Regions from separate parts of the Homo sapiens genome. Here regions 2 and 3 are each linked to region 1. The links come from fine-mapping of genetic effects on gene expression. A gene starts in region 1. Each other region holds a variant in brackets. All regions are shown on one strand. Distances are between the middles of the regions.

Region 1 (10,398 bases):
AACAGCTTCTGGAAATCTGAAAAGAAAAAAAAAAAGGTAGTTTATATATTAGTTTGGAATATGAAATGTATTTTGTCATGGTCTCCAGAGTCCGAATATTGATCTCTGTGGAGCTCTCCTACCCTCTGCTACTGCTGATAACTCATAGTACTGGAGAGATAGCAGAGCCTGAAGACCAAAAAACTCAACTGCCGATACACGGCTGCAGTGTGGTCAGTTACTGATCTACCATTTATGAAGCAGGCCTACAGATGTGTGTGTTCTTCTGGGTAATTTAAATTGACAATTAATTAACAGGGCTGGTGCTAGGTAAACATTATAGGTTAGAATCCCTAGTGTGGATTAATTTGCTCTCTTCCATGATCGCAGACTCCCTGCTTAGCTCCAGTCTGCTGGTCTCCCAACATCTGCTAATGATTACATGGGCAGCATTAAGGTCTCTTATTACCTTGTTTGAAAAACTGGAAACTCATCTGTTATTGTTGGTGGTTAGATACCTCACCTAAGTAAAATATTAATTAATGATATTAGGCTGGGCGCGGTAGCTCATGCCTGTAATCCCTGCACTTTGGGAGGCAGAGGCAAGTGGATCACTTGAAGTCAGGAGTTCGAGACTGGCCTGGCCAACATGGTGAAACCCCGTCTCTACTAAAAATACAAAACTTAGCCAGGTGTGATGGTGTGTACCTGTAATCCCAGCTACTCCAGAGGCTGAGGCAGGAGATCACTTGAACCTGGGAGAGGGAGGTTGCAGTGAGCTGAGAACACATCATTGTACTCCAGCCTGGGCAACAGAGCAAGACTCCATCTTGGGGGAGAAAAAATAAATAAAATAAATACAAAATAAAAAAAGAAAAAGTCCCCAACCATTAGTTGTCATATTGTAACCTCCAAGAAGACATAACTTTTTATTAAATTTTAAATACAGATGTTTATTTTTTATTTTTTATTTTTAAGATGGAGTCTCGCTCTGTTGCCCAGGCTAGAATGCAGTGGCGTGATCTCGGCTCACTGCAAGCTCCGCCTCCTGGGTTCACGCCATTCTCCTGCCTCAGCCTCCTGAGTAGCTGGGACTATAGGCGCCTGCCACCACGCCCGGCTAATTTTTTTTTGTATTTTTTTTAGTAGAGACGGAGTTTCACCGTGTTAGCCAGGATGGTCTGGATTTCCTGACCTTGTGATCCGCCCACCTCAGCCTCCCAAAGTGCTGGGATTACAGGCGTGAGCCACTGCGCCCGGCCCAGATGTTTATTTTTACCTCAATATTTAAGCAATTTAACTTCAACCAACCCCTGAATTTGAGTTAAGGATGCAGAGTATATAAGTGTTTGTCAGCTAAACATTTTGCCCACCATCAATAGCTACTCAATAAATAAAGTTTTTTTTTTTTTTTTTTAAAGAACACAAAGCTAAATAGGGCAACTAAGAATTGAGTTTTATGTGTTATGATACAATAATGAATTTTAAACTTTCCAAAAGTACAATAACTGGTCTATGTTCTCGAGTATAAGTCTAGACAAATACAGTTTCTGGAAATAACTACAAAAGCCAACATTTATTGAGCATTTGTTGTGTGGCAGGCACACAGGTTATCTGATTTAATCCTTATAACAACCTGGGAGGTTAAGTACTATTAATATGTTGATTTTACAGATGATAAAATCCAAGGTTCAATAAGGTAAATATTTTTGCAAGGGCACAGACTTATCATAAGATGGATATTGGGGGCCTGACTCCAGAACCTTAGACCTCTACAATATAATAAGGTGAAAATAAATTTATTTCCAGAATTCCAGATACTGGCACTGGCATTTTTTTTTTTTTTTTTTTTTGAGATGGAGCCTCGCTCTGTTGCCAGTCTGGAGTGCAGTGGCGTGATCACTGCAACCTCCACCTCCCAGGTTCAAGCAATTCTCCTGCCTCAGCCTCCCGAGTAGCTGGGACTACAGGTGCGCACCACCACGCTCGGCTAATTTTTGTGTTTTTAGTAGAGATGGGGTTTTACCATGTTGGCTAGGATGGTCTCCATCTCTTGACCTCGTGATCTGCCCGCCTCGGCCTCCCAACGTGCTGGGATTACAGGCGTGAGCCACCACGCCCGGCCGCACTAATGCATTTTTAAAAATTAAAAGCAAGAGTGTTTAAAGAAAAGGTAAATACACGGAATGCAATGCTACAAATGAAAATACGAGTGATTAAAAACTACTACTCCTCACCTTGTGAACCTGCCTTGGGTTATAAAAGCAAATTTGGATATTTCTGGATTTTGCTCGTTATTTAATGGCTAACTGTATTATTTCTTTTATTTATTTATTTATTTTTGAGACGGAATCTCGCTTTTTGCCCAGGCTAGAGAGTGCAGTGGTGCCATCTCCGCTGACTGCAACCTCCGCCTCCCGGGTTCAACCAATTCTCCTGCCTCAGCCTCCCAAGTAGCTGGGATTACAGGCGCACACACCACCAGGCCCGCCTAATTTTTGCATTTTTAGTAGAGACGGGGTTTCACCATGTTGGCCAGGCTGGTCTCGAACTCCTGATCTCAAATGATTCACCCGCCTCGGCCTCCCAAAATGCTGGGATTACAGGCGTGAGCCACCGCACCTGGCCTGTATTATTTTTAGATAACATGTCATCCTGGCTTTGTGACTAATTTTATGCATAGGTGAGTGGCATAACTTGTCAGCCTGCTTTTAAATGTAACTTCCTAAAATACCAGCAGCATTTAATTTATGTACGTATGATACTGGCTTGCATTTGAGGTGGGTATCAGAAAAGAAAGCAGAAAAATCCAACTTGCCTTTTTCACCGGGAGTATGGGGGCTTCTTTGGCCAAACCGTGCGCGTGCAGGCTCCATGTGCTGGGCAGCAGCTGTCCGGCCACAGCCTGTCGGTTGCATCCTGCTCCTCTACAGAGGTTTCTCCAAAAAAAGAACAAATGGAGAGATGAAGGTAAGTAAAAGCGGCACTTTAAAACTTTTAGAGTGCTGGGTTTCTAAATTTATATTCTGAAAGACATTAATCTCTTTTTGAAAATGTTTTATGCAAGCCTAATATACATACAGTATCAACCTCATTTTAGAAGCAGTTACGACAGAGCTTTGGAACAGAATTTACGTAAACGACCTCCTTCCAGAAGATGCTACTAAAGCAACAAGATTCAAATCCCTCTCCCTCAGAAGAGCTGGGAGATCCACTGCAAAGGCGCACGTTTCAGTCTAGCCATTGCGCAGTGGTAACGCAGGCTTTCCCACGCTGCAACAGACCTGTGCTCTCAAGACAGTCTCTTCCGTGACGAGCAGGCGCTTAGGGCTACCTGTACCTTCAGACATTATGGTGTGTTTGGCCATGTCATTTGTCATAGGTGTAAAAACCACAACCGAGAGCCCGAAGCTGCTGGGATGAGCACCTGCCGCGGAACTGCATTCTCGCGCTCCTTCCTGCTCTTTCCAAGAAGCCAGGCGCGGCCGGCCAGCATCCCGCTCTCCCGGACCCCGCAGTCAGTGTGGGCAGCAGGCCCAGAGTGGTGCGAGCCGACGGCGGCGTTAGAAAGGCGGCGTCCCGACGAACAGAGTGACTCGGCCTCGGCTCCCCTTCAAAGCGCCATCTTATCGCTGCTTCCCTCAGGAGCAGGCGAGCTCTTCCCCAGGACCTGCTTCGCGGCTTCCCTTCGCCCGAGAACCACCGGGCGGAGGCGGCGGCCTCTCTGGCCCTGCCGGGAACAGGGCGCAGGGGAGGGGAGCGGCGGCCGACCGGCCTGAGGCGGGCGAACGGCCTCTGGCCTCCAGGCGCTGCCTGCTCCGGCTCAGAAGCCTCCCGGATCCCGTCCCGGCCCAACTCCGGGCCTCCGCCTCCGCCGCCGCCTCCGGGAGCCCCGAGCCGCGTCCCGCCGGCGCCGCCTCTTCCGCCTGCTAGCCGGCGGGCCTGGGCGGCGTCCGCGCCGGGCGGGTCCGCTACGTCAGCGCCGCCCGCCCGCCCCGCCCCGGCCCTCAGCCTCGGCCTCGGCCTCGGCCTCGCAGCGGCGGCAGCGGCGGCGGCGGCAGGTCCCTCCCCAGACATGGCCCTGGGAGGCGGCAGCACATGGCGGCCGCGGCGGCCATGAGCGCGCCCCCGACCCGCCCCAGTCCCCCCTAGAGGCCGCCGCCCCCGCCCGCCAGCCCGCCCGCGCGCCACGGCCCCACCACCCCCGGCCCCGCCGCCCCCCGCCCGCACCCGCGCCCGCGCCCCCGCCGCCGCCATGGGCGTGCAGGGCTTCCAGGACTACATCGAGAAGCACTGCCCGAGCGCCGTGGTGCCGGTGGAGCTGCAGAAGCTGGCCCGGGGCAGCCTGGTGGGCGGCGGGCGGCAGCGGCCCCCGCAGACCCCGCTGCGCCTGCTGGTGGACGCCGACAACTGCCTGCACCGCCTCTACGGCGGCTTCTACACCGACTGGGTCAGCGGCGGCCAGTGGAACCACATGCTTGGCTACCTGGCGGCGCTGGCCAAGGCCTGCTTCGGCGGCAACATCGAGCTCTTCGTCTTCTTCAACGGCGCGCTCGAGAAGGCCCGGCTGCACGAGTGGGTCAAGCGGCAGGGCAACGAGCGCCAGACGGCACAGCAGATCGTCAGCCATGTCCAGAACAAGGGCACCCCGCCGCCAAAGGTCTGGTTCCTGCCGCCCGTCTGCATGGCCCACTGCATCCGCCTGGCGCTCATCCGCTTCCACGTCAAGGTGAGGCCGGGGATCCGGGCGGGCCGGGGACCGGGGCCGCGCCGCACCCCTATCCCCCTTCCCAGGGCGCAGAATGTCGCCCGGCCGTGGCGGCGCTGGGGGCAGCGAGTTCCCCCAGCCCTTGCCCGGGATAGCCTGGCCGGGCCGGGCTGCAAGATGGATGGCCGCGGGTGCAGGCCGCGCGCTGCCCAAGCCCGTCTCCAGCTGTCCCTGTTCGGGGTCCGCGGCCGCGTGGGGACACTTGAGGGCTGGGAGAGAGCCCCGGACCAGAATTCGGAGGCGACAGTGTCATCATCCCCAATATCCTTAGTTTTTCCCATCCTATTTGAGGCGGGCAGGCTATCACTCACCTTCAACTTTGACAAAATACTCCCTTTTCTAATTTAGCCTGTTCTTTCCCAGCAACAGGTTCATCTTGGAAGCAGGCAGGATACAGAGTAATAGAGGGGGTTTCGCCAGAGCCCTTGGGGGCTGCAAATATCAGTGCTGCTGCCGCCGCCCTTGCCAATGTTGTTAGCCCGGTGACAGCGAGACGTGTCTAAGGGCCAGTGCCCTGGCCTCTACTTCAGAACGCAGTGCCCTGTCCGTGTTCCTCTTAGTACAGGGTGTTTAGAGAATCTTTCTATGGCTTTTTGTGTTAGATTTCAAAGACCCGTGCACTTTGACAGGATGGGATTTTGTCAGTTCTGTGACTTCACGTCCGTGTGAAAGAGGTCTTTAAGGCAGTTCGGTTTTGTAGATCCCATGCGAAAGGAGTCGCTCAAAATCAGGGGGCGAACTACGCGGGCGTGAACTCGCAGGATTTATTTTTCGGGTGCACAGTAAGTATTCAGTGACCTTCAGCGGTGCCCTGACGGGTGGGTAATCAGAGCTCTATATCACCGGCCTCCTCTGGCCCTTTGGCAGAGGGCTTCGCAGCTGGCACTGGGCCAGAGGAGAACTTCAGGACCCAGCAGTGACTGTGAAGATAAGCACATCCATGATCCTGGACTTCACGTTCTGATTGCTTGCTTTTTTCATTGGTTTTCTTGAAAACAAATTTTGGGGGCCTTTTTGTTGTCTTAGCTCTTGACACTCGGTCTTCCATCTTGTCATTTGACATTTCCTTGAAACTGCTGGAGCTGAAAGTTTGTGAAATTCTGTCTTCGCGGTTGCCCCCACTGCCCGCGAGGAGATGGTGGTAGTTAAGCCTAAAATGATAGCGGAAGTCCCACCCACGATCCGGTTGCAATTGGTGAGATGGTGTTTAAGTCGTGGGTGGAGGCGGCCGGCAGAGTCCCGATTGGCCCCTGCGCCTGGCAGACACACAGCTGCCATTCCTCAGGGAAGTTCGGGTGAGAGGAAGTGCCTGCCTTTTAATTTCTGAATCGGAGCCTGGGGCGCTCAGGGAAGTAAGGTGCTGCCATTTGTCTGAAGCGATCCATCTCCCTAATAGAGCGTAAAAGTGTTCATAGTTTAGTCTTGTTCAGAGATGGAAAAGACTACTTAAAAGACAGGATGAGCTGCACTGACTTGCCTTTGGTAACCGCACAGCTCTCTACTTAACTAGTCAAGCGACTTTCAAGGGAACACTGTGAATATTACTTAGGATTAGAATCAGTATGTATGCATATGGTCACTGTATCTTTAAAGAACTGTTGAGTTCTTTTTAATTCTACAGTTTCTTTATCTTTGCACCCCTTTGAATGCCTCGCACACCTAGTAGGTGCTCAGAATTCAGACCAATGTGTCAGTGTTAGGAAACTAGATTTAAGCTCCATTTAAGATCGTCTTTTTCACTTAGGTTTCTGGACACGGGATAATGGGATAATTTTGTCTGTATTTTGCTTTTGCTAAGCTTTTAATTATTGACCTAGGGTCATATTATAGTGCGAATTGCACAAAATGAATATTGTAATAACTCAATTACTTGGTGGTCTCTTAGCTGGCAACCTTACCTTTTTGAAAAGTGCCTAAGAGATTTAGCTACTAGAAATTTCTCAGCAACCAAGCAAGATGTCAGGAAGTTTGGGTACAGTGATGTGGGGGGTTGGCGGGTGTAGGGGGGTGCTTTTGCTTTCCTCACTGAAGAATCCTTTAAGCTCTCTCACTCATGGACTGGCCTCTTTTCATATGTAATTCTAACAAGCTTGGTTATCTATTTTCTAAACTCAGCTTGAGAAGAGGATGAAGAGGAGAGTCTGCCAGAGGCAGGAGCACCATTAATAGCAAGAAGTGACAAGAGAGATTTAAAAAGCTATAAAAAGCAAACATAATTCTGGGGCTATTTTAAGAAAAGGAAAACAACCCTATGTACTTCCTTGGTCCCTGAGGGTAGTACAATGTTTATTCTATAAGGATGATTTTGAGTCATAAAAATTAATATTCAGCATTCTCTGTTTAAGGGATTGAAACAGTGTATACCATTTAATAAAAGATACCCATAAAGTGGTTAAAACGTTTAAAACCATGATATCACTACATGCCTATTAGAATGGCTAAAAGAGAAAAAAATATGAGCAATACCAAGTGCTAGCAAGAATGCTGAGCAACTGGATCCTTACACATTGCTTGTGGGAATGCAGAATGGCACCACCACTCCAGAAAACAGTGGCACTTTCTTATAAAGTTAAACATACATTTATCATACGATCCAGCAATTCCACTCCTGGGTATTTTCCTAATGAAGACTTTTGTTTGTGCAAAAACTGGTACTCAAATGTCCATAGCAGCTTAATTCATAATAGCCCAAACGTGGAAACAAAGTATCCTTTAATAAGTGAATGGTTAAACTACAGTATAGCCATACTATGGAATACTACTTAGCAATAATAAGGAAGGAATTGCTGGTGTAGGTAACAACTTGCATGAATATTTAATTAAGGTTTTATACTGAGTGAAAGAAGCCAGGTTCAAAAGGGATGATTATAAAACTATAGTGATAGGGACCAATTCAGTGGTGCTGAGAGTAGAGGAGGGGAAGGATGTACACATAAAGGGGACAGCAGGAGAGATCTTTGTGGAGTGATGGAACTGTTCTGTATTCTGATGGTGGTGATGCTACCATACATTAAAATCAGAACTATTCATCCAAAGTAAATGTGTTAATTTTATCATATGATAATTTTTTTAAGATTAAGTAAAAACCACTGGCAAAGGAATTGACATGAACAATTCAGTATATATAATGTTGAGTAAATGAGACATTTATAAAAACTTTAAGCATCTTATTGGTGCTTTCTAGTGTTTTGTAAATTGGCAGAGGGGCATAATTTCCTGTTACCTTTGCTTAGAGAAATCTTTTTTTTTTTTGAGATGGAGTCTCACTCTGTCTCTCAGGCTGGAGTGCAGTGGCGCGATCTCGGCTCACTGCAACCTCCACCTCCTGGGTTCAAGCGATTCTCCTACCTCAGCCTCCCTAGTAGCTGGGATTATAGGCGCCTGCCATCATGCCTGGCTAATCTTTGTATTTTTAGTAGAGGCGGGGTTTCACCATCTTGGCCAGGCTGGTCTTGAGCTCCTGACCTCGTGATCCACCTGCCTCGGCCTCCCAAAGTGCTGGGATTACGGGCGTGAGCCACTGCGCCTGGCCAGGAGAAATCTTTTTTGATTTAGAGATTATTTCTTTTACAGAGTAGTAATTGTATTTTTTTGTTCAGTAGTAGTAATTGTATTTCTTTAACCATTAGAAGTTGGTCTACATGGAAAGACAGCCAGAACAATGAAAATAATAATACTTTGGCCTATGTATTGACTAGTTTTGTGTAGGTCCTAAAATAGCCTAATTTGAACTTGGCTTTAGCTAGTTACTTGGACAGTGTTTCTTCTTGTGTGCCTTGGGTCATTATAACCTTTGAAACTTCAGTGAATGACTTATGTTTATTTTAAAATCTTAGTGGCATGAAGTCACTGGAGCTTTCATAAATGTTTCTGCTATATGACTTGTGGTATCAGTGTAAGGGTTTATAATAAAGTCCTTCAGATCTTCTGAATTTGCTTCCATTGGAATTTTGTTAAATAATGCTCTTACATAAAATGGCGTTCATGCTATAAGTCAGTGGAAGAATGTGAGGTTAGACTATGGTTTAGAATTTTCATGGTTAGCATAATTACATGTTTGTATTTAGAGATGATGGTCTCCCTTCATGTATACTTGATGGGGGAAGAGAATGAACTGGTATCAGACCAGGTGCTTGCTAGATCCTTTCTCACATATTCCATCTCATTTAATCCTCAGAGTGCTTTGTTACCCCATTTTTCATGTGTAAAAACAGGATCTAGTGATTAAGTGACATCTGGGGACAAGTCATTAGTAACCTCAAGACGGAAGTGGAGTGCTAAAGTCAAAGTTCAGCTTCTTTGTGTAAGAATACTTTGTGGGTGTGCCTACCTACAATTCTCACCCCCAGGTCAATTACGATAGCTAACTGCTTCAGCTATGTTTTCTAGTTAGGATAGGAACAGTCATGTTGCTATTCAGAAGAAAAATGTCCATCAGTAGATCCTGGACACTGACAGTACATCTTATTCTTAAGGACCTTTAATTGACTGGAAGATTTTTAAGGTTCAAAACTGACCATATTATACCTCAAACTAGTCACTGTATATATTTCTCTGTTGTACTACTTTTGTCACTAGTTTAATTCACATAGCATAATGTCTTCAAGCTTCTTTCATGTTGTAGATTGTGTCAGAATTTCCTTAACTTTTAAGGCTAAGTAATACTCCACTGTGTATATGTACCACATTTTGTTTATCCATTCATCCACTGGTGGATACTTGGGTTGCTTCCACTTTTTGACTATTGGGAATAATGAATAATGCTTCTATGAGCATAGTATACAAAGAGCTGTTCGAGTTCCTGCTTTCAGTTCTTTTGGGTATATACTCAGAAGTAGGATTGCTGGGTCATATGGTAATTCTGTTTTTCTTTTTAAGGAATGGCCATATATTTTCCACAGTGGCTGTGTAGGCCATATATTTTATGTCATAAGTTATATAATATATATTATTATAATATAGTTCCATTTTTTCACATTAATGTGATTGCACTATACGTTATTCAGCAGTTTGCTTTTTTATTTGTAAGAAATCTTTCCATGTCTATACTTAGAGCTCTAAGTCTTTTCAGTCCCTAAATAGTATTCCATAATTTATCCAACCCCGACAGATGGTATACACATGATATATACACACAGTAGAGCTAAAGGTATGCACATTTTAAAAGCCACGTAGGACCATAGAGTCAACATTACCAGAACTTCAGACTTTGCAAGAAAGCCAGAAACCCAGATTTTTAAAAAAATTATTCCATTTTAAAAATGCCAAGCGAAGGAAAACTTGGTTCTAAGTTAGCTTCAGCTCTTGTGCCACCAATTTGTTATTTGAGCACTGATCTTTATCAACAATTATCATGGTCATCTAAATCTCTTCCTTTTTTTTTTTTTTACTTTAAAATTAAACCTATCAAAAACCACTCTGTCTTTTCCTGTCTGCCTCCTTGAACCTTTTTCAATGATCAAAATGCTTCCATTTCCTGGGGTTACTGCAATATGATGTTTCCTTAAATGCCACAATCCTCTTGGCCACTTCCATAGTATATTCTTCATTATATACTTCTCAATATTACATATTTTGAGGTGAGTGCTAACCCACATGTTTATTTGACATCTCACCATTTCCAAGGCACAGCCTCACTGTCCTCAAACACT
Region 2 (10,596 bases), 24 kb after region 1:
TCAACACATGGTCACTATGTAAATTAGACATTTAAACCTTTGACATAAATTATGTTTATAGTAGAAGAAAATATGCTATGGGGTTAGAATGGTTATGTTTTCACCTCATTTTCGGGATACTCACTACTTTAAAAGAGAAACAAAAATAAGCTATCGTAGCTTGTTTCCAACACCTACATTTTAAGTAAATGTATACATGTCTTTAAAAAATTTCCTTGGAGGAATTCCTTATGCTGAATACCCAGAAAGGATGAAATCTTGTTTTAACTATGACATTAGATTTTAATTTTCTTTAATTAAAAATAATTCCCCCACGCCTGTAATCCCAGCACTTTGGGAGGCCAAGGTGGGCAGCTCACCTGAGGTCAGGAGTTTGAGACCAGCCTGGCCAACATGGTGAAACCCTGTATTTACTAAAAATACAAAAATTAGCCGGGCATGGTGGTGGGCGCCTATAATCCTAGCTACTTGGGAGGCTGAGGCACAAGAATGGCTTGAACCAGGGAGGTGGAGGTTGCAGTGATCCAAGATCGTGCCACTGCACTCCAGCCTGGGAGACAGAGTGAGACTTTGTCTCCAAAAAAAAAAAAATTCCCAAGAAGTAATATATTTGTCTGTCACTTTATATTTGCATTGTGTGTTTTCTTTCTTTGCTCTTTTGTCAGCTACCCTTTCTTATGCTTTCATTGTGCTTGTCTCACCCTACTTTAATATCCAGCTCTAGTTTACTTAGTTTATAAGAATTGTGTCCAAATATAAGTAAACATGTTTTGGAGGGAGGCACTCCTGTGATTAGAATCCATGAATCTGATGGGATTTGGGGCTGTTTTGGACACACAAGGCCAGTTTGGGAAGCTGTGTGGTCTCTAGTGCTCAGTTACTGTGCTCCCTTGCAGTATATATTCTATAGAGGCTAGCAGTCCAATCCAGTCCTGTTCAAGAGGGGATTATATTGTGGATTATTTTTAGAAATGCCTAGTTATCAGAAAGATTTTTATAAACATTCCAAAACAGTTTTACACAACTAGAAATTGTAAGGAGTCACAATTTATTTTTATTTTTTTGGAGGGACTGGTTCTTTATTTCAAAGAGACACTTTTCAATATTCAGTATCAAAACGATTGCGCTATTGATTTCTATTTCTCCCAATCGGTCTCAAAGGAGAGTACATTTTAAGTCAATAAGTTGTAGGATGTATACCAACAGACCTCCTAGAAACCTTACCAGAAAATGGGGACTGGGCAGGGAAAGATTAACTTTAAAAGATCAGCAAACTGCCAGCCCATGGGCTGCAGAGGCTATGCTTTTCAAGTTTTCATCGTTAAGATATCTTTGGACAATTTTTTTTTTTTTTAAATGGAGTCTTGCTTTGTTGCCCAGGCTGGAGTACAGTAGTGTGATCTTGGGTCACTGCAACCTCCACCTGCATGGTTCAAGCAGTTCTCATGCCTCAGCCTCCTGAAAGCTGGGATTACAGGCGCCCACCACCACGCCCGGTTAATTTTTATATTTTTAGTAGAGACAGGGTTTCACCATGTTGGCCAGGCTGGTCTTGAACTCCTGAGCTCAAGCAATCCACCCACCTCTGTCTTTGCTGGGATTACAGGTGTGAGCTACCGCGCCCAGCCTTTTTTTGTTGTTGAAACAGGTTTTTACTCTGTTGCCTAGAGTGGAGTGCAGTGGTGCAATCTCGGCTCACTGCAACCTCCACCTCCCAGGCTCAAGTGATCCTCCCATCTCAACTTCCCAAGTAGTTGGGACTACAGGTGCATGCCACCACATCCGGCTAAAGTTTTTTGTGTGTTTTTGGTTGAGACAGGGTTTCATCATGTTGGCCAGGCCGGTCTCCAACTCCTGAGCTCAGGGCGATCCACCTGCCTGAGCCTCCCAAAGTGCTGGGATTACAGGCATGAGCCATTGCGCCTGGCCACATAATTTTTTATATGTTATTTTGTGAAAGCATTTCATGTTTTACTATATGAGTCAGTCAACAAAATTGTGATTTCACAACTTGTGTTTGTTTGGATCTAATCTCAAATACAGTGCTTAGTAAGGGAACTCTTGTGCCTTTGGGGATTTGGGGATTAAAACGAATCTTTTAAATATATTTTCAAATATTAAAATATAAAAGGATATTTCCTCTGATGTTAAAAGTGAGTATGGGGGTGGCACATTATATGGAAAGTTCCATGTTTGCTTAAATGCTATGTAAAATAACTTGGCATATTAATTGACTTTGAATGTGAAAATCATATGCTCTTAGAATATGGATGCCTTAGCTCATTTGAAAAATGGAAGAATACTTGTTTATCTTGTTTAAGAAACATTGAATATGGTATTTGGAAGATGATGCCAACTGATACTTTTCTAGCTTGTTAGTTTGTGAAGTTTTGAAATAAATGAAAAAATCAATTGCAATATGTTGTCAATTTAATTTAGGGCTTGCAATCTCTTCAAAAAGTTTAGTGAAGTTATAGGTAAGCTCCTAAGTTTTTGTTGTTGTTGTTGTTGTTGTTGTTTTTTGAGATGGAGTCTCTCTCTGTTGCCTAGGCTGGAGTGCAGTGGTGCGATCTTGGCTCACTGCAACCTCTGTCTCCCAGGTTCAAGCGATTCTCATGCCTCAGCCTCCCGAGTAGCTGGGATTACAGGTGTGTGCCACCGCACCTGGCTAATTTTCACCACGTTGGCCAGGCTGGAAAAGTTTCACTGTGCTCAAATGAGAAAGCTTATTTTTCTTTTCCCTTCTGTAATGGAAAGTATAGCTATATAAAGTATTTTGTTTTAGGAATGTTGGAATATTCATTTAAGTATTTCACCCCCCAATTTTTCACAGGGACTGTTACTAATGTTGGAGTTGCCTTAATATTATTTCGAATTGAAGCTTCCAAAATTTCGGACACTTCGTTCTTTTTTTGTTTGTTTGTTTTTTGAGACAGAGTCTTGCTCTGTCGCCCAGGCTGGAGTGCAGTGGCATGATCTCGCCTCACTGCAAGCTCCGCCTCCCAGGTTCACACCATTCTCCCACCTCAGCCTCCCGAGTAGCTGGGACTACAGGCAACCGCCACCACTCCCTGCTAATTTTTTGTATTTTTAGTAGAGATGGGGTTTCACCGTGTTAGCCAGGATGGTCTCGATCTCCTGACCTCATGATCCGCCCACCTTGGCTTCCCAAAGTGCTGGGATTATAGGTGTGAGCCACCGTGCCCGGCCAGACACTTCATTCTTCACCGTGAAATTCTATGCAATCCATTAACGGGAAAACAATATCAAGCCAGCAAACCTGAGCAGTTACGGTTCAGATTTGCTCATTTGGACATCACGGGAGTTCAGTACCTCTGGCTTGTGTGTTTGTGTGTTTGGAATACAGGTGGAGTGTCCCTTATCTGAAATGCTTAGGACCAGAAGTATTTTAGAGTATTTGCATATGCCTAATGAAGTATCTTAAAGATGGGACCCAAGTCAGCATGAAAGTCATTTATGTTTCATATATACCTTATACACATAGTTTAAAGGTAATTTTGTAAAACATTTTAAATAATTTTGTGCAGGAAACAACATTTTGACCGCCTTTTGACTGTGACCCATCTTATGAGCACAGGTGTGGAATTTTCCACTTGCATCATGTTGATGTTGAAAAAGTTTCAGATTTTACATCAGATTTTACAGACTTTACATCATTTTGGACTACGGATGCTCAACCTATATTATAACGTAGCAATATTCCAAATGGTCTTAGTTTGTGTTGCATTCTGTTAGTAGCAAATTAATGAATTTGCTATCATAATGTGGAGGTGATTAAGTAATGTTATAAAAATCATGGTTATTTAGGAAATTACTGCTTTGAGATTTCAATGAGATAGCTAACCTACTAAAGATCAGGTATACCAGGCATACGAACATTATTATGAAAGTAGAGTATTACCCCCAAATATAGTTTCTCAATTGAATACAGTTTTGTTTGTAGACTGTGACAGCACTGGTGATAGGATGAGCAGCTTAATGGCCTCATGAGTATTACTGTAGGATGGGCCTTTTCACATATGTTTGTGGGTGGTGATGGAAATTATGGGAGAAGGGTGTTGATTCATGTTACAATCAGCAGTCATTGTCATTTAATCTTGCTAAGAAAGGTTTTATAATTGTGCAGATTTCACATTTGGTGTTTTTATGTAATTTTGAACCGTAGCTATTTCATGAACAGATGAAAGCTTGAACCATAGTCATTTCATGAACAAATGAAAACTTGAATCTAATTGGTATTTGATATCCTGACATTGTCAGACTGACCTTTTGCAAACTGGTGTTTATTTTTAATACTGTGCTGTGAAGTTGTTTCAGTTTTATGCAGTTCTTAGGTTGAATGCTGTTGGGACTGCACTAGAAATTCCCGTCATTCTTGAAGCAGCTGCAAAGATTCTGCCTGCTGTATGTCGCTTTATGTTAAGAGATGAAGATTTGTTCTCAGTTTCTGTTTGAAAGTTTTCTACTATAGGTGACAATATGCAGCACTTTTGAAAGTTTCCCTATGTTACTTAAGATGATTGCTTTTATGTTATCCATGTTTATATTCCAGGAAATCACATTCTGCCTGATGAAGATCTGGCTTCCTTTCACTGGAGTTTACTTGGTCCAGAACATCCACTAGCCTCACTAAAGGTACAAATTTCACTTTATTTTTCTAGCATTTGTAATAATCAACTGTGAGTTTGCTATTACTTTAATAACATGTTAGGCCCTTTATTGGTGATGCTACAAAGTTAGCAATACCATGTTTTCCCATAATTTCAGGATCTGCACTGCCTTAAAAAGCAAGCAACAATGCTACCATCCCTTGTTCTCAACACCTATATGTTAGGTAAATGTATAAATGTCCTTGAAAATTTCCCTTAAGGAATTCTTTGTGCTGTGTACCTAGATAGAAGGAAATCTTTGAGCTGATGTTTTATATATTAATTTTCTTACTTAAAAATTTTAATTTTGTCTTTAGGTAGTATAGTTACTTGTCACTTAGAGCAACATCTTTGCATAGTTGATAAATTTCATAACTAATTTTCTACAATTATAAAATAGTTTATAAAGCTTTTTGGATGATGAGGGAGACTCAAATGGAAGTGATCCATTTGTACTATTTTATTAAAACTTAATATTCTTTTTCTCCCTTTTGATTCCCTTCCTGTTTGTGATAGTAATAAACATCAGAGATGAGGCACTTAATTCTGATTTTCTGCAGTGGAAGTGTCTGTGTTTGATGTGAGCATAGGAGTAATGAGTGAGATATGCACGAGGCACTGGAAAACTTCAGCTTGGACTTGTTAGTGACTCCTGTGATTGTAATGATCATTTGTCAGTTCAAGTGCCTTTCTTGACTTGGGGAATTAGGAAGATGGGGACCTAGACTTTGTATCTGCTTCCCACCCTGGGACTGCTTCCTTACAGTAAAGAGTGGCGGTTAAATTGGGTGTTTTCCGAAGGGCTGTAAAATTTTGAATGTTGTCGTAATTACCCTCCCTCCATAAACAATTTTAATTGGTGGCTAGTTTCAAATGGGAGTTTTTCTTCCTACATTTTAATTTACCTTTAACTCTGGTGATACCCAAAAGCTGAAGTAGAATTCCTTTCCTCCTTTCATTTTGTTCCCTGCTGTTTCATCTCTGGCATGCTTTTTCTTTTTCATCTCTGGCATGCTATAAAATGTTCTCCTTTT[C/G]ACCCTAATGGGGTTTGGTATGGACTGTTTTCAACTTCTTGTTCAAAAATTAGTTTTTCTTCTCTTGTTAGAAATTACATTTCTGGCCATAGAATCCCTCCTGTATGTTTTCATGAATGAAGTGATGTGATCTGTCATTCGGACTCTAAGCTTCTGGTGATGCCATGATTGAAATGTGGATTGGGGAAATGCAGCGTGTAATCAGCTGGACTTAAGAGCACTGCACCTGTGCTCAGTAGCTCTGTTAAGCATTATGCTTTTGTAAGTGAGACACAAATGAAAGCTTGTTTCCTACAAGATTTATTTTGTTTTGAAGAGCAGGAGTGAGATACTCCCAAGGTTTCTGGCTATATGTGTATGTCTAAGTTAAACTAGCCCTGCTTCATATGTCACAGGGTTAGAAGTGAAGAGCTGTTTGAAGAATTATTGGAAAACCAGCTCAATCTATTGCCAAGTGAATAACATCATTATATGTGTGTTTTTCCTAAATTTTGTTGAGAAAATCTTTAAGTATTGAAATGTGGAAAGAATAGAGAAATGTGTATCCGTATATCCCCCATCTTGGTTCAACAATTATAAACATTTTGCCATAAAGTATATGTCTGTGTTTTGTTTTGTTTAACAAAAACTATTTGGAAGTAAGTTGCAGATATGACACTTTACCCATGAAAATGTCAGCTTGCTCCACCACTTCAGCTTGCTCCATCACTTCCTAAAAATAAGGACATTTTGATACTTTATCATATTACTCCTATGACATCAACTAAATTAATAATTCTTTAATATCTTTTTTTTTGAGACAGGGTCTTGCTCTGTCACCTGTGCTGGAGTGCAGTGTCTAATATCATTTAATATTAAGCCCATATTCAAATTTTTTCAGAGTCATTTATAGGTTTTTTTTTTTTTGATCGAGATCCAGTCAAGCTTTATGCATGCATTTTGATATTAGCTGAGTACTTTTATGGCATATTGGAGAAGAAATCCTAAATTATTTTTCAGATGACTTGATACGTTGTAGGATTTTAAAGTCACACATGAAATGCAAGTGCACCTGGTTTTGAGATAAGTTCAGAAATTGCATTTGTTAGCCACTTTAATGTTTTTATTTGAGACAGAGTCTTGCTCTGTCACCCAGGATGGAGTACAGGGGTGAGATCTCGGCTCACTGCAACCTCTGCCTCCAGGGTTCAAGTGATTCTCCTGCCTCAGCCTTCCAAGTAGCTGGGATTACAGGCGCCTGCCACCACGCCAGCTAATTTTTGTGTTTTTAGTAGAGGCAGGGTTTCACCATGTTGTCCATATTCGTCTCGAACACCTGACCTCAGGTGATCCACCCACCTTGGCCTCCCAAAGTGCTGGGATTATAGGTGTGAGCCACAGCACCCGGCTCACTTTAATGTTTTGACCCTTCATTCACATTTTTGTATGCAGCACCATTTCAGTGATTTTAATATACATAGGGGAAATTGGATGTGGTTTTACTCCCCATGAGCATGACTGATGGATGTGCTACAGAATTGTATGTATCCCACCTGCTATTTTAGTCTCTTTGTTTTTCCCCAGTTGTAAAACCAATTGCATCTTTTGAAAATTTGGATAGTTGTTACATATCTTCCATAATATTCTGAGTTTTATTTTCTGAAATATTCTTTGTGTTTTTGTATTATGTTGAAATGATGAGAGGTTTAAGATTAGGGTATTGCATTTTTTTTTTTTTTTTTTTTTTTTTTGAGACGGAGTCTCGCTCTGTCGCCCAGGCTGGAGTGCAGTGGCGGGATCTCGGCTCACTGCAAGCTCCGCCTCCCGGTTTCATGCCATTCTCCTGCCTCAGCCTCCCAAGTAGCTGGGACTACAGGCGCCCGCCACTACGCCCGGCTAATTTTTTGTATTTTTAGTAGAGACGGGGTTTCACCGTTTTAGCTGGGATGGTCTCGATCTCCTGACCTCGTGATCCGCCCGCCTCGGCCTCCCAAAGTAGGGTATTGCATTTTAAGAGGTGCTTTGAATTGATTAGATATTAACTTCATAGAACACCAGCCCTCTGTGAACAATAATAAATTTGGCTTTGGCAAAATAGTACAAATATAATATGATAAAAGGGATGGACCAAGGAGGCTTAAGCTTGAGGATGCAAAGTCACGTGTCCTTAACAGCTATTTTTCCAGTATACTCTGTTAGAAAGGGAACCAATAAAAATCATGAGAAAATTTCATCTTTTTACCATCTGATGAAAATCACAAAATACCATGGATAGGAAGTCATCAGTAGTCGATAATTTATGTGATTCCAAATCTTCAGTATGTTGGCAGCACTATGAATTTTTGTTTTCTTTATAAGTAGCATCCTTAGACTCATCTTTTAAACATGTGTCTTTACCAATTTCACTACATGCATTCATTCATTCACTGTAAATTTTTAACTCTCTGACTGTCATCGAACCAGCTACATCAGTTAGAAATTGTGAAGTCCTCCCTGACTGTCCACAGCCCTGGTTGTGTTGAAAGAATAGCACGTCTGCTTTGGGGCTCTGCGGGCTCAGAAGCACAAGGGAGAACAACTGTTAAATCATTGGGTAATATCTGCAGAGAGGAAAGCTAGGATGGGAGCCAAATTCTGTTTTGTCCTGCCTTATTAGTTAGTAGTAGATCGTGCTTATTACTAGATTATGAATGCAATGTTAGACATACTCAGAACCTAAAATTGGTAGAAGACAGTAGGAAATAGGATGTAAGGTGACTTCTTCATACCTCAATGGTAACCTTAAGAGCTGCTAGTAAGGTGGGCATTGAATTTCTTAGGTTTAGATGCAAAGACTACTTCATTTATGTTCAGAACACTTGGGCCATTTCATGTAACATGTAAAATTGTAGGATGGGGTTAGGGGTCAGATAGCTTCTAAGATGTGGTCAATTCTATAATGAGAGAAAGAAAACAAGAGTTATGTGTTACTCCCTATTCCTCGGGAGACCTGCTGTTGGGATTCCTTGCTGCAGTCCCGGAGATGCCTGGAGGCTGGGCTGGAGTGCGACCTCTGTCTCTACCCAGGCCCAGGTCCTGCAGAACAGGGAGCCTGGCAGCAGATGATACAGAGCAGGCTGGGCCAGGATGGGTAAAACCCCAGGGCTGCACAGACACCCAAGCCTGAGGCTGCGTTTATCTTACTTTGCTCTAAGTAAGTTACTCTGTTTGATTGGAAACATAAGAGAATCTTTTATGTACCTGGAAGAGTTGAGATACACTCCTGGAATGCCTCCCAAACAATGGGGAAGGCATTCCAGGAGTGCATCTCATTTCCTCGCTCATTTAAACTTTTTCCAATGGCAATATTTCTTAAAAGGGTCATATCTTTAATAAGGAAAATACATTGAATATCCTTTCAATGTGTTTTTGGACTCAGTGTTATAATTAGGAAGATTTGTGATTGTATTTACAGTAATGAAAAGTGGGCTGGATGCATATTGGTCTTTCGAAGAGGCTCCCACTGTTTGTGTTGCTCTGGGCCGCTGTGCTCCTTTCATGGTTTTAGTGTGGCTGGCAGTGTTGCATGAGAGAAATGGAAGGCGTCAGGCAGCCTGGTACCCAGAGAGCTGAGCCTGCAGAGCATGGGCTCCAGTCCCAAGCCCAGCCTCTGTTTCCCTTCAGGTGGTGCCCCCATGCCTGCCTCCTCCTGTGCCCTGGGAGTGGCTGGCCATTCGGTCTGCCTGGACATAAGGTTTAGTGAGCCTGTGGGTGCCCTGCATAGCTGGTGTGGCCTGTACTCATCAGAGGCGGCCTGCGGCTGTGGCAGTCCACCCTGGGCAGGGCCCCCTGGCTGTAGACATGTGCTAAGTGAGCAGTTTTTCAAAATGTGACTTTTGGGGTTTTAAAAATTGTATGATTTTGTGTCCTAACTGGTTACGGGAATTTTTTATTTTGGGTGGGCATTTTGTTGTTTTAATTTTTAAAAATGTTTTATAGATGTTTGCTGGCTTTATTTTTTTAAAAAAACATGTTTCTTGTTGCCTCTGGTTTTCTTGAATCTTGGGTTTTTAAACACTTTACAGAAGGCTTTTTGTCACTTGGGTGTTCTACATCCTATTGACCTCGTATTTGGGTATAATAACATTTAAGTTGGACCTGTTTAGTTTCAGGTCATTGTATTCATTTTAGTGGTTTTTGTGTTCCTTAACTTCATATTCAATTTCATATATTTTGAGTTTCCATCCATGCCAGTTGTTTGTGATGGCCAAGTATTCCCAACCACTGAGCCCTTCGAGCTCCTTTTGCCTCCTTGTCTGGGACACCCCAGCTTGCAGATTTTATATGGACTGATCCTTTCCTGAGACTTCACTACCAGCAGTTCTACTTTCTAGTTAGGTTTAGTCGGTTTTACTCTGTTTACACTGCAGTTCCCAGTCTTTTTGAAAGACCCCTTTTCTGCATGGTGAGCCTCCCCTAGAAGTACTTGTCCTCCCCCAGCCCTTTCTGACCCCATCAGCTGGTTATCCTAGGGCCAGGCTGGGTCCTGGGCCAGGCTGCACCCTCATTCATGGAACGCCATCTTCTCTGTATGATCCTCTCTTGGAGCTTCCCCTAAAGTACTCTTCTTGCTTTCTTCTACATCATCTTAGGAGCTCCCTCTAATTCCTAGCCCTGGCATTTCTTCCTTTTGATTTAAATGTCTTTGTGTATTTATCACCTTACCACTCTGATTCACTTATTTTGGTAATCTTTTACCAGCATTATCTTTCCCTGAGGCACCCGTATACCGGGGGCAATCTATCAGGCTGTATCAAGAAAACTTTTAGATTCACCTCCATTTTTTTTTTTTTTTTTTTGGGAGACGGAGTTTTGCTCCCTTGCCCAGGTTGGAGTGCAGTGGTGCGATCTCAGCTCACTGCAGCCTCTGCCTC
Region 3 (10,596 bases), 52 kb after region 1:
TAAGTAGAAGTATGAGAAATAGACCCCAACTCTCATTTAAATTGTGTTGTTTGCTTCATCTAAGTTAACAAAAGAATGATTGCATGTTCAAGAGACTCTTACTGGAAGGAGACTTTGTATTTATTTGAGAAGACTAATTCCAAGATTGAAAGTGGCCTTAAGAGCTGCACCCTTCATTTATTCAAGCATAGTGTCTGCTGTATGCTAGGAACTGGGCATTGGAGATCAGAGGCATGGCACTGGCTTTGGCTGCCTATGTATGTGGCTGGGTGGTGGACAGGGAAACATGGCCTGTGCCGATGCCCTGTAATAAAGGAGGTAGGGCTTGTAACCTGGAGATGGGCATGGAGTGGCTGAATCTCCACTGCGAGGTCAGTAAATGGCAGCAGCCTCCCAGTGGGGCTCTTTGCTGCTCTCTTGCTCCCCTGCAATCCATTTTCTTCCCAGCAGCCAAAGTAATGTTTAAAAATGGCAGTTGGACTGTGCTACTCCCATGCTCAGAATTCCCCATTGGCTTCCCGTCACACTTGGAATAAATTCCCAACTACTTACCTTGCTTCCTCCCCATCATCTGAGACTGCTGGCTTCTCACTCCTGAGCGCAGCCTCCTTTCTTGCCTTGCATGAACCAAGCTAGCTTCTGCCCTGGGCCTCTGGGCCGGCTTTTGTGCCTGGAGGGCTCCTTTCTCTGACCAGCTTGTGTTTGTGCCCTTCTGATTTGTGAGATCCAGGCTGTCGTGTTCTCCAAGGTCTGCCTGGCTTTAAATCTCTGCACACTCCTTGGCTTCTATTTGTCACCACCACCACCCCTTCCCCCGTCACTCCCCACAATGTAAAGTCTAGGGTAATGAGGGCCTATTAGTCACCTTTACTTTTATATCCCCAGTGGATAAATATTTGACTGAATGAATTGATCCACTTGGTTTTTAAATCAAGAGAGTGAAGTGGTGAGATGTGTTTTAGGATTATTTTTGGAAAAGGGGGCACAGAGCATCAGCAGGAGGGAGACTAGCTGTATACTGTTTCATCAGTTAAGGTGAGGCATTATGGGACCAGATCTCAGTGTGTCTACTGTATACCCTGCACACAGAAGATGTCTAATAATTGCTTGTGGGAATGATGGGGAGCATGAACATTGCCACCTGTGGCCTACTGCCTCCTGACCTCGAGCTCCCTATTTTATAGAATGGGGTCATTATGTGAATATTAAAAGAGAAGGCGTATGTAAGGTGCTTTAGTGAAGTACTTGTTCAGTCATTCAATGCCCTTTTAGGTAATTCTGCCTATAAGAATAACAGATACTGTCTGATAGTAGATACTGTCATTATTCTTCTCATTGGCAGAATGGCCTCAACAGGCACTGAATGATTGGGCATTGGAATGAGCAGTGAGGAGCCTGAAGGAGCGCTCAGAGGTGGGGCCGGCAGTCTCCTGTGTTTCACTGACATTGTGCTCCTGTGGGACAGTCTGTATGGCAGGTGTAGTTTAGAAAGTCCTTAGAGTGTACTTGGGACTGGAAAATCTACTTAGGAGAAAATTAGGAAGATAAGTATAGAGAAAGGCAGCACACTTAATATTTGGCATTGATCTGGGCTCATAATTATGAAGATGTTTTGAATAGGCAAGGTGAGTTAAGTTTGAATATCTTAAAAATATGTTCTGTCAAGTGCTTTTGTGTTCTTATCAAATTATTAAGATTTTAGGTGAGTATTTTAGAGGTGAAGTTTACTCAGAATTTAGTTTCACTTTCATTTTCACTACTCGGTGGTTTATGGAGAACAGCAAAGTAACTGGTAGAGTTTGGGATGCTTGGGATGATAGTTTGAGGCAGCTTAGGGTAGGCATGAACTGCCTGTAAATCCTCCTGTACAGCATTCCCTGATGCTTCTGGCTGTTGCAGAAATGAGGGTTGTATGCGGAGGGACTAACAAAAGTACAGGCACAGAATGACAGCCAGGCAGGAAGTTTGGGCAGTGTAGAATTTTAAGATGACGGGTATGCAGTCTGGAATGGCAGGAGACAAGCCTGGAGAGAGGCTTCAGGCAAGATTGGGAAGGACGTTTTGTTTCAAGCTGCATACACATGATTTGGAACTAGCAGAAATGGATTCTTGTAAAAATAACTTTAGTTTTTTTCTGATAACTCTGAAGAAACATAAATTACATTAGCTGTCATTGATTTTTACCCCTGCATACTACTGGGATCCTACCAGTGAAACTAACAGGGCGAAGACTGGAACCTAAGTTGAAAGTCTAGAAGGAACAACATGGAGTCGGTGGGACCCTTTCTGGCAACTCAAGTTAGAACCCATGATGTATTTTCCACAGAAATATTTTTATAAGTAGTAGATAGGTCCTAAGTGGTCTTTGGTGATCTGTCATAGAATCCAACCACAGTCCATTATATTATTCTACAGGAAAATAATTCAGAATTTTGAAGAACCAATGTGGGGATATTAGTTTCTTGTTGTATTAGAATTTATCTTATTAATCATTCAGAAATTGGAATATGTGTAGAGTTTTGAAGAAATTTTAGGGTAATCATATTATAAGCTTAGAGAGCATGGCTATAGGGGAAAAACATGGGGTGAGTTGATCTAACCAGAGGTTTCTAAACTTGGCTGGAATTTTAGATTCCACCTCAAAACTGCTATTTTAGCATCTTAATTGGGCCTTAGGAATTTATATTTTTTAAAAAGGAATGTTCCTAGCTAGGTACCAGTTGGCCTGGCTTTTAGGAACCACAACTCATCCTCTGTGCCTTTCTTTGTAAGCCTGTAAATCTATCTGCAATATTGAGAAAAATACCTCAGATCTCTAAACAGTTATTGGGTAGTGTAGAGTTCTTAGGAGGACACATACACACACACACACACACACACACACACACACACGCACACTTGCAATATAGTCTCCCAGAAATTGTGTATTTTGAGATGATTTTGAAAATAAGTGGTGGTGAGATGCATACTTATTTTTAAGCATTCACTATGTCATAATTACTAAGCGAGGACCTGCCTATCTGGAAATGGTTGTGATTTGTTCTTTCTGTCTCAGCATGTAAAATCTGCTATAGCTCTCCACGAAATCACCAATCTAAATGCAAGCACAAATAAGATATGTGATAGTTGAGATTTCAAAATATTTAGTTCCCTAGTTAAACCAGTTGCTTCAAAATCATTGGTGGAATTTACTAAAGTAACAAGTAACACAACTAACACTGAGGTCTCACCTCAGATCTGTGGATGTGGAATCTATGGGCACAGATCCCGTGTGCAGGTGAAATTGAGGCTGAAGAAGTAGCCACTGTGTCATTGGCCTTCCTTAGTGAAAAGTAAATGGGCTCCTACTACACATTTTAATTACACATTTGTTAGAATGATTAACATAGAAAACACCAACAACACTAAATGCTGGTGAGGATGGGTAGCAACAGATTGTGCTGCTAATGGGATTGCAAAAATGGTACAGCGACTTTGGAAGACAGCTTCGCAGATATTTACAAAATTCCCAAGTCATGCTTGTTGGTGTTTGCCCAAAGGAGTTGAAAACTTATGTCTACGCAAAAACCTGCACACAGATATTTAAAGCAACTTTATTCATAATAGCCAACGCTTGGAGGCTACCAATATGTCTTCAGTAGGTCAACAGGGAAATAAAGTTTGGTGTATCTAAGCAATGAAATAATCAACACTAAAAAGCAATGCGCTATCAAGCCATGAAAAGATGCAGAGGAACATAAGTACATATCACTAAGTGAAAGAAGCCAATCAGAAAAGGCTACATACTGTGCGATTCCAACTATAGGACATCTGGAAAAGGCCAAAAGTATGGAGGCAGGAAAAAGATCAAGGGTTGCCAGAGGTTGTGGGGAGGGAGGGATGATTAGGCAGATTTTTGGGGCAGTGAAACTATTCTGTATGATACTGTAACGGTGGATACATGGCATTATACTTCTAGCCATATCCAGAATACGTACAGCACCAAGAGTGAACCCTAATGCCAACTGTGGGCATTAGGTAATCATAATGTAGCCAGGTTTGGCTCATTGGTTGGAACAAATGTGTCACACCAATGCGAAGTGTGTACTCTGCTCAAGATTTTTGTAACCTTGAAACTGCTCAAAAAAAAAAGTATATATATATATATTTTAAAGTAAAGAGCTCGTTGATTTGTGCATTTCATGACAGGCAGTGTGCTGGGTGCTGAATGGTGTGGTAAATAAGAGAGGAGTTACCGTTGCCCCTACAGATGAATGTATAGTGGGGAAGTGAACACCAGGGAATCCTGCAGGAAAGAGAACAGGAACCTCAAGGAAGACCAACCTGATTGAATCAATCTACGATTAAAATGGCTGGTTCTGATTGATTAGATTATTGTTGAGTGGGGTTTGGGGGTTCAGGCATCTAGCAAGGTGCCAATATGGGAAGAAGTGTATTCCATGCAGGGGAGGTGGCATGTGAGAGGTCCTGAGTTAGGAGGACATAGTGAAGAAGAAAAATAAGAAGAATGTGGTTGAAGCACAGAAAGCGGGGAGAGTGGTCAGGTGATGCTGAGAGCGGCAGTGCAGTTGCCAGGCACCACCTTGGATTTTAGACTTTATTCTTAGAACGTGAAAGCTCATGGAATAATTTTTACCTGTAAAAAAAATGATTTTGTAACTATCATACTACAATGTGTTAGTCTTAGAACATTACTAATATCTTAGCCCTCTTATATGTCTTCGCTGGTTGCATTCCTCGACTCTCTACCACCCTCAATTTTGTATTAGTTATTCTGTGCTTCTCTATATAATTTTATCGTGTCTGTATGTCTGGATACTAAATAGTTTCATTTTGTTTGTTATGAAATAAAATCATATAGCATGTACTCCTCTGACTTGCCTTCTTAATATTTATATTATTGTGTTTCATTCATGTTGGCATAGTTCATTTTTTAATGCTGTGCAGCATTCCATTGTATTAATATATATTTGTCCATTCTACTGTTGATGGAAAATGGACTGTTTCCAGCTGCTTGCCATGATGGATAGCGCACTTGTGAACATTGTTTCATGTGACCTGATGTGCCCAGGAGTGGAATTCCAGGGAACCTCCAGGGTAGGGCCCTGTTCAAGCCTCTGCTGCTGCCGGACACGGATACACCTATTTATTCTCCTGGCAGAAGTGAAAGAACCCTCTCATTGCTCCACGTTTTATTATTTTTTGGTCTAGTGATTATGAAACTATATCCTGTAAAGGTTTCAGTTGCATTTCCCTGATTACTAATGAGGTTGAGAATCTTTATGTTTATGGGCCAGTAGGGTTTCCTCTATTGTGAAATGCTTGTTCATGTTGTT[C/T]GCTTGTGTTTTTTTTTTTTTTTTTTTTTTTTTTTGAGAAGGAGTCTCGCTCTGTCACCCAGGCTGGAGTGCAGTGGCGCAATCTCGGCTCACTGCAAGCTCCGCCTCCCAGGTTCACACCATTCTCCTGCCTCAGCTTCCCGAGTAGCTGGGACTACAGGCACTCGCCACCACGCCTGGCTAATTTTTTGTATTTTTAGTAGAGATGGGGTTTCACAATGCTAGCCAAGATGGTCTCAATCTCCTGACCTCGTGATCCGCCCGCCTCGGCCTCCCGAAATGCTGGGATTACAGGCGTGAGCCACTGCGCCCGGCCTGTTCGCTTGTGTTTCTGTTGGGTTGTTTTTCTTTTTGCTTATTCATAGGGATACTTAATATATATATTGGATGCTAGTCAGATAAATGGACTGCAAATAATAATCTTCCAATCTGTGGCTTGCATTTTTCTGTCTTCATGATGTGCTTTGATATCAGAGTTCTTAATGTCAAATACATGAATTTTTCCCTTTGTTGTTTGTACCTTTAAGTCCTATCCTGTATTTATGGATGAAATGATGTCATGTCTGAGATTTGCTTCACAATAATGCAGTAGTGGGCAAAGAAGGGTGGAAGTGCAGATGACACGCAATAGGCTGTGTGCTGGTTAATTTTGAGGGTGGTTGATAGATATGTGTGGCTTATTGTACAGTTCCCTTTTTTCTTGTGTTTGTTTAAAGTGTTACATGAGAAGGAGAAAAAGAAAACATAAAGGAAGAATTCCTCCCTAGCCTGAGGTGATAAACACTTTGTCTTCTAAAAGTTTTATTTATGATTTTGCCCTTTGATACTACCTGGCACTGAATTTTGTTTATGGTTTTTGAGTGAGGGAATTCAGTTTCTTGTTCACCGTGTGGAGAACCTGTTGCCTTAGTATTGTCCACTGAGAATGCTATCCTCTTCTGACATGTTGAGTGTCTCCGTGTGTGGGTCTGTTTCTGGGCTCAGTTCTGTTGAATTTCTGATTATCTTCATGCCACAGGATTATGCCGTTCTAGTTGCCATAGCCTTGTAATAATACTTGATGTCTGATTGGGGAAATCTGCCCATGTAATATTTCTGCAAGAGGTCGAGACTGTTCTTGATCCTTTTCACTTTTATGTACATTTTATGATCCTTGTGGAGATTTTGATTGGAATTACACCAACTCTGTAGATCAATTTGGAAAGAATAAAATCTTTATTATTGAGTGTACTAAAGAAAATGTTACATTTCTTTATTGATTTGAATTGTCCTGAATATCTTTCCGTAAACTTGAATTTTCTTCATTAAGCATTCATAACATCTTTTCTTAGAGATATTGCTAAATATTTATTTTTGGGTGCTATTTCTATGTGTGTCTTATATTTTCAAATTAATACTGTAAGTTGATTTTATCTTAACAACTTTGCTCAGTTCTTATTAATTTTCATAGTTTATTTGTATCTTGCTTTGGCTGATTGTGTCTCCTCTAGTATCTTTTTGATCTTCCTGATCCACTGAGCCAGCTGTGACTTAGGGCATGATTTTTTTTTTTCTTCTTTTTTTTTTGTTTTCAAGATGGAGTCTCGCTCTGTCGCCCAGACTGGAGTGCAGTGATACAATCTCAGCTCACTGCAACCTCCACCTCCTGGGTTCAAGCAATTCTCCTGCCTCAGCCTCCCGAGTAGCTGGGATTACAGGTGCCTGCCACCATGCCCGGCTAATTTTTGTATTTTTAGTAGAGACGGGGTTTCACTGTGTTAGCCAGGCTGATCTCGAACTCCTGACCTCATGATCTGCCCACCTCGGCCTCCCAAAGTGCTGTCCACAAATGGACAGGTGTGAGCTACCACACCTGGCCGGGGCACGATTTTTAATAGAAGGTGCGATGGTGACTGTTCTTGTCTAGCCCTTGATCTTAAGGGGGAGTCTGATGTCTTGTCATCTTAACCCTTAGCATTATCTCCTCTACCTTTTCCATGTTAAAGAAATATCCTCATGAAAGAGTTTTAATCTGGGAGTGGTGTGCTGAGGTGTGCATTTGAATTGCTTGGGCCTCAGTGTGCAGAGGGGATCAGAGTGGGCAAGGGCAGGTATAGGGAAAGGAGTGGGAAACTCTTTCAGTATTGAGGCAAGGCATGGTTGCAGTCCCTGGGGCAAGTTCTCCTCTGTGGGAGGCAGGAGTGCTGGGTGGATTTCATAGGTTTTTGGGAGATGGAATAAGTAGATAGTAGATATTGATGCTTGATTATAGAAGCTCAATGAAAAGAATTCGGGGGAAATGGCTCCCAGAGTTTTGGCTTGAGCAGCTCAGGTGAGGATGCCATTAATGAGATAAAGATGGTTGGAGGAAGAGCAGATTTGGAGGATGGTTTTGGATACGAATGTTGAGGCGCCTTCTAGGATCCCGGTGGAGATGGGAAACAGGCATTAGAATGCACAGGTGAAAGCAGAGTGAGGAGCTAAGCTGGAGTCATGGGTTGCAGCTTTGCTGGTGTGTAATGCTGAGAGGAGCTGTGGTGGTGGAAGCGGAGGATAAAGAGATGGCGCCCCTGGGGCCAGATGCAGGAGGTGGGTGCACAGAAAGAGTGGCTCAGCGAGGCCAGGGGAGATACCCTGTGCACAGTTGTTAGCAGCGCTGAGTTCTGAGAGGTTGGGCAAGATGAGGGCGCTGCCTGATAGATGGAGTGTCAGTAGGACCACTCAGGGCAGGCTTCGGCTGAATTTGGAGCTCCCAAACCTTGTGTATGTACAATTGGTTGGCCCTCAATAAGAGGCAGTGGATCCTAGGAAAAGTCATTTTTAGCTTTCCTTCTTCCTCAGTATAGAAATTCGTAGAAGAGGATAGGATGGGTGGCAAGTACCACGCCTCTCTCCAGTCATTTCCATAAAGGGGTGGGGCTTTGAAATGCAGGGGAGAATTGAACAGGTTGAAGTTGTTATGGGGATGATGACTACTGAGAGAGAGGGGTTAAAGATACAGAAGGGAGTGGTTTTGGTGCACATGTGGTTTTACAGTGAAGGTAGGGGAGCTTGATCTCTCATAGCAGACAGCCTCCTGCTACCTGGTCTTTTGAAAGTCTAGCCTCCACTAAGCAGCATGGGGAGGTCACAGAGTGAGTAGACTGAGGGCATATGTGTAGAGCAGCCAGGCTGCTGTGTGTCAGAGAAGAAATTTGCAAATAGGACCATGTTGAAAAAGGTGCTAATCAGTACTAAGCAAAGAACAGATGCTACACAGTGATGAGCAACCTGGTCCTGGTCACAGCAACACAGTGACCTCTGGGTGTAGCAGCTGCCAGGTGCTTGGGAAGGGCCCCGTGGTGTGTTTCATTGGGACAGGAGCCTGTGGTCAGCCTGTGCCCTGACAGGTCCCCAAGGCTGGTCACATTCTACCAGACCAGACTGTGTCTGAGGGATCACCTTCCTGCAACGCCCAGTGACTGACCTGGATGCAGACCTAGGAGACAGCAGGCTGAGTGGCCTGGGGTGGGCACTGCTACCTCCAGCTCAGGCAGCCTGCCCAGGAGAGGGAATTCATGTTGTGAAAGTTACTTGTGACAAACCTGAGGGAGAAGCTGGGTTGGTCCTGGGGCTGGTGTTCTGGGCTCTGGCCATGGGGATCCTGCCCCTGCTTTGCTCTTGGGCATCACTCCATCCTGACTGAGAGGGGCTCCTGTGCTGCATGAGGTCTGTGTGTCCTGCTGCTCCCCTGACTTTTCCATAGAATAAACAGCCCTACTTCATATGTGTCACCACAGCCCTGATCCCAGTGTCGCATTGCTCAATAGATAGTGTTAACAGTTATTTTGAAAATACACACGATCTCTCTCCAATAACATACCCCCCAGAATCTGAGAACATGAGAAAATATCCCACTCGGAAGTTGGAAAGACAATATGTAAAGAATGATTTTAAATGCCAGATGACTGATCCTAAGCTGCGGAGAAAAGGTGTTCAGCCTCCAGGGAACTCAATGGCATGCCACTCAGACCCTGGAGGTCTGAACAGAGCCCACTGCAGGCTCTGGTGAGAAATCTGTAGTGTAACCTGCCTGAGTCAGCTGAGTGCTCTAGCAAAAGGACCAAAGGATAGAGGCAGGTCCTCTAGGGCAGAAAGAGTGGAAATGTGAAAGAGACCACATGGTGGCCCACACTGCCCCAGGCCATGCCTGGCTGACAGCTGGATGGCTGGACCCACCTGGACCCACCCAGTGGCCCTCCTGTCCTGTTGTGGTCAGGGCAGAAGTGGAGTGCCTGGGGCCTCCTGCAGAGGAGTGGGCTCAGCAGGGAGCATGGATGGCCTCGGGGGTTGGGACTGACCAAGCCTGGGGGCTATGAGCCGTAAGTGGGGCCCATTATAGAAGCTGGTGATGACTTTCTTATTTTCTCCAGAGATGGTCTGGTACTCTGCAATGTGGAGGTGCTATGTAATTTAGCCATGTCTCTGCTGTCGTTGTCAAGAACGTGTTTAGTTTTTTGCTACTATAATGATTTTTAAAAAAATTTTATTTTCATGAGGTATTCAATATTATACTATTGCAGTATTTTACTAATAACCTTAAAAATTTGATATTCCTTAAAAATGTTATATTAAATCCTCACTTTGTCCTGTAGCTTTGCTTACTAGACTTGCCCTTTCTTAGATTTTTACTAAAGTTTTGTTGTTGTTGTGATGAAAAACTGTTAACAAAAAATAGAAGAAACAGTAGAATGAGTGGTGGCGTACCTACTTCAGGTTATACAAATGGCAACCTGTGCTTCAGATCAGTCTTTTAATAAAAAAGAGATGCTTCAGGCTTTTCTAAAAGTCATGTACAGACCCCTTGAACATGTTTTTATATTTTCTCACCTCATACATATGGAATAATTAATACATTAATTTTAAATTAAATTCTGTATTGTGCTTGCTGTTCTGCACTTGGTCTTTTTGAGATGCGTCCTAGTTCATCTTGATGAGTTTTTATCTTTAAAGCTAATGCAGATGACGTTGATGTTAAGCCCCGGAGGCTGACAGAATAAAGGGCACCAGAGGGAAGTCAGAGCATTACTCCCATTGAGTAGAACGGCCACTCATCTTGCCCTTCTGGTCCAGAATTCCCAAGTAGAAAATTGGATTCTTCTGCTGGTGCTGGGGGCTTTGCTTTCAGCGTCTGCTCTGCGACCTTTCGCTCCATTTTCAGTGAGTTTGTGGTAGTTAGTGTGAAGTAGGAAGTGACACAGGCTGCCTGATCATGTGGCCATTTTGGAAGGTCATTTTTATT

Evidence for each region. PIP is the estimated chance that this variant, and not a neighbour inherited with it, causes the effect.
Region 2: its variant is fine-mapped to the expression of FAM120AOS in whole blood (TOPMed, PIP above 0.99). The same link has a PIP of 0.9 or more in blood mononuclear cells.
Region 3: its variant is fine-mapped to the expression of FAM120AOS in whole blood (INTERVAL, PIP above 0.99).

Annotation. Positions count from the first base shown.
Region 1 is chr9:93,447,682-93,458,079 of GRCh38, forward strand. FAM120AOS (family with sequence similarity 120 member A opposite strand) reads right to left here and starts at 5,900. Exons shown (of 3, transcript NM_198841.4): 1 at 4,466-5,900; 2 at 2,798-2,918; 3 at 1-16. The coding sequence starts at 5,028. FAM120A (family with sequence similarity 120 member A) reads left to right here and starts at 4,004. Exons shown (of 18, transcript NM_014612.5): 1 at 4,004-4,708. The coding sequence starts at 4,235. RefSeq lists enhancers at 3,484-4,033, 5,613-5,742, 5,806-6,100 and silencers at 3,614-4,143, 4,284-4,413, 4,714-4,893.
Region 2 is chr9:93,471,683-93,482,278 of GRCh38, forward strand. FAM120A (family with sequence similarity 120 member A) reads left to right here. Exons shown (of 18, transcript NM_014612.5): 3 at 4,574-4,656. Among named protein-coding and RNA genes, the nearest start is that of FAM120AOS, 23 kb to the left of the region's middle. The variant C/G (reference allele first, on the strand shown) is at 5,705.
Region 3 is chr9:93,499,708-93,510,303 of GRCh38, forward strand. The region is part of intron 5 of FAM120A (family with sequence similarity 120 member A); the gene reads left to right. Among named protein-coding and RNA genes, the nearest start is that of FAM120AOS, 51 kb to the left of the region's middle. RefSeq lists a silencer at 9,158-9,353. The variant C/T (reference allele first, on the strand shown) is at 5,337.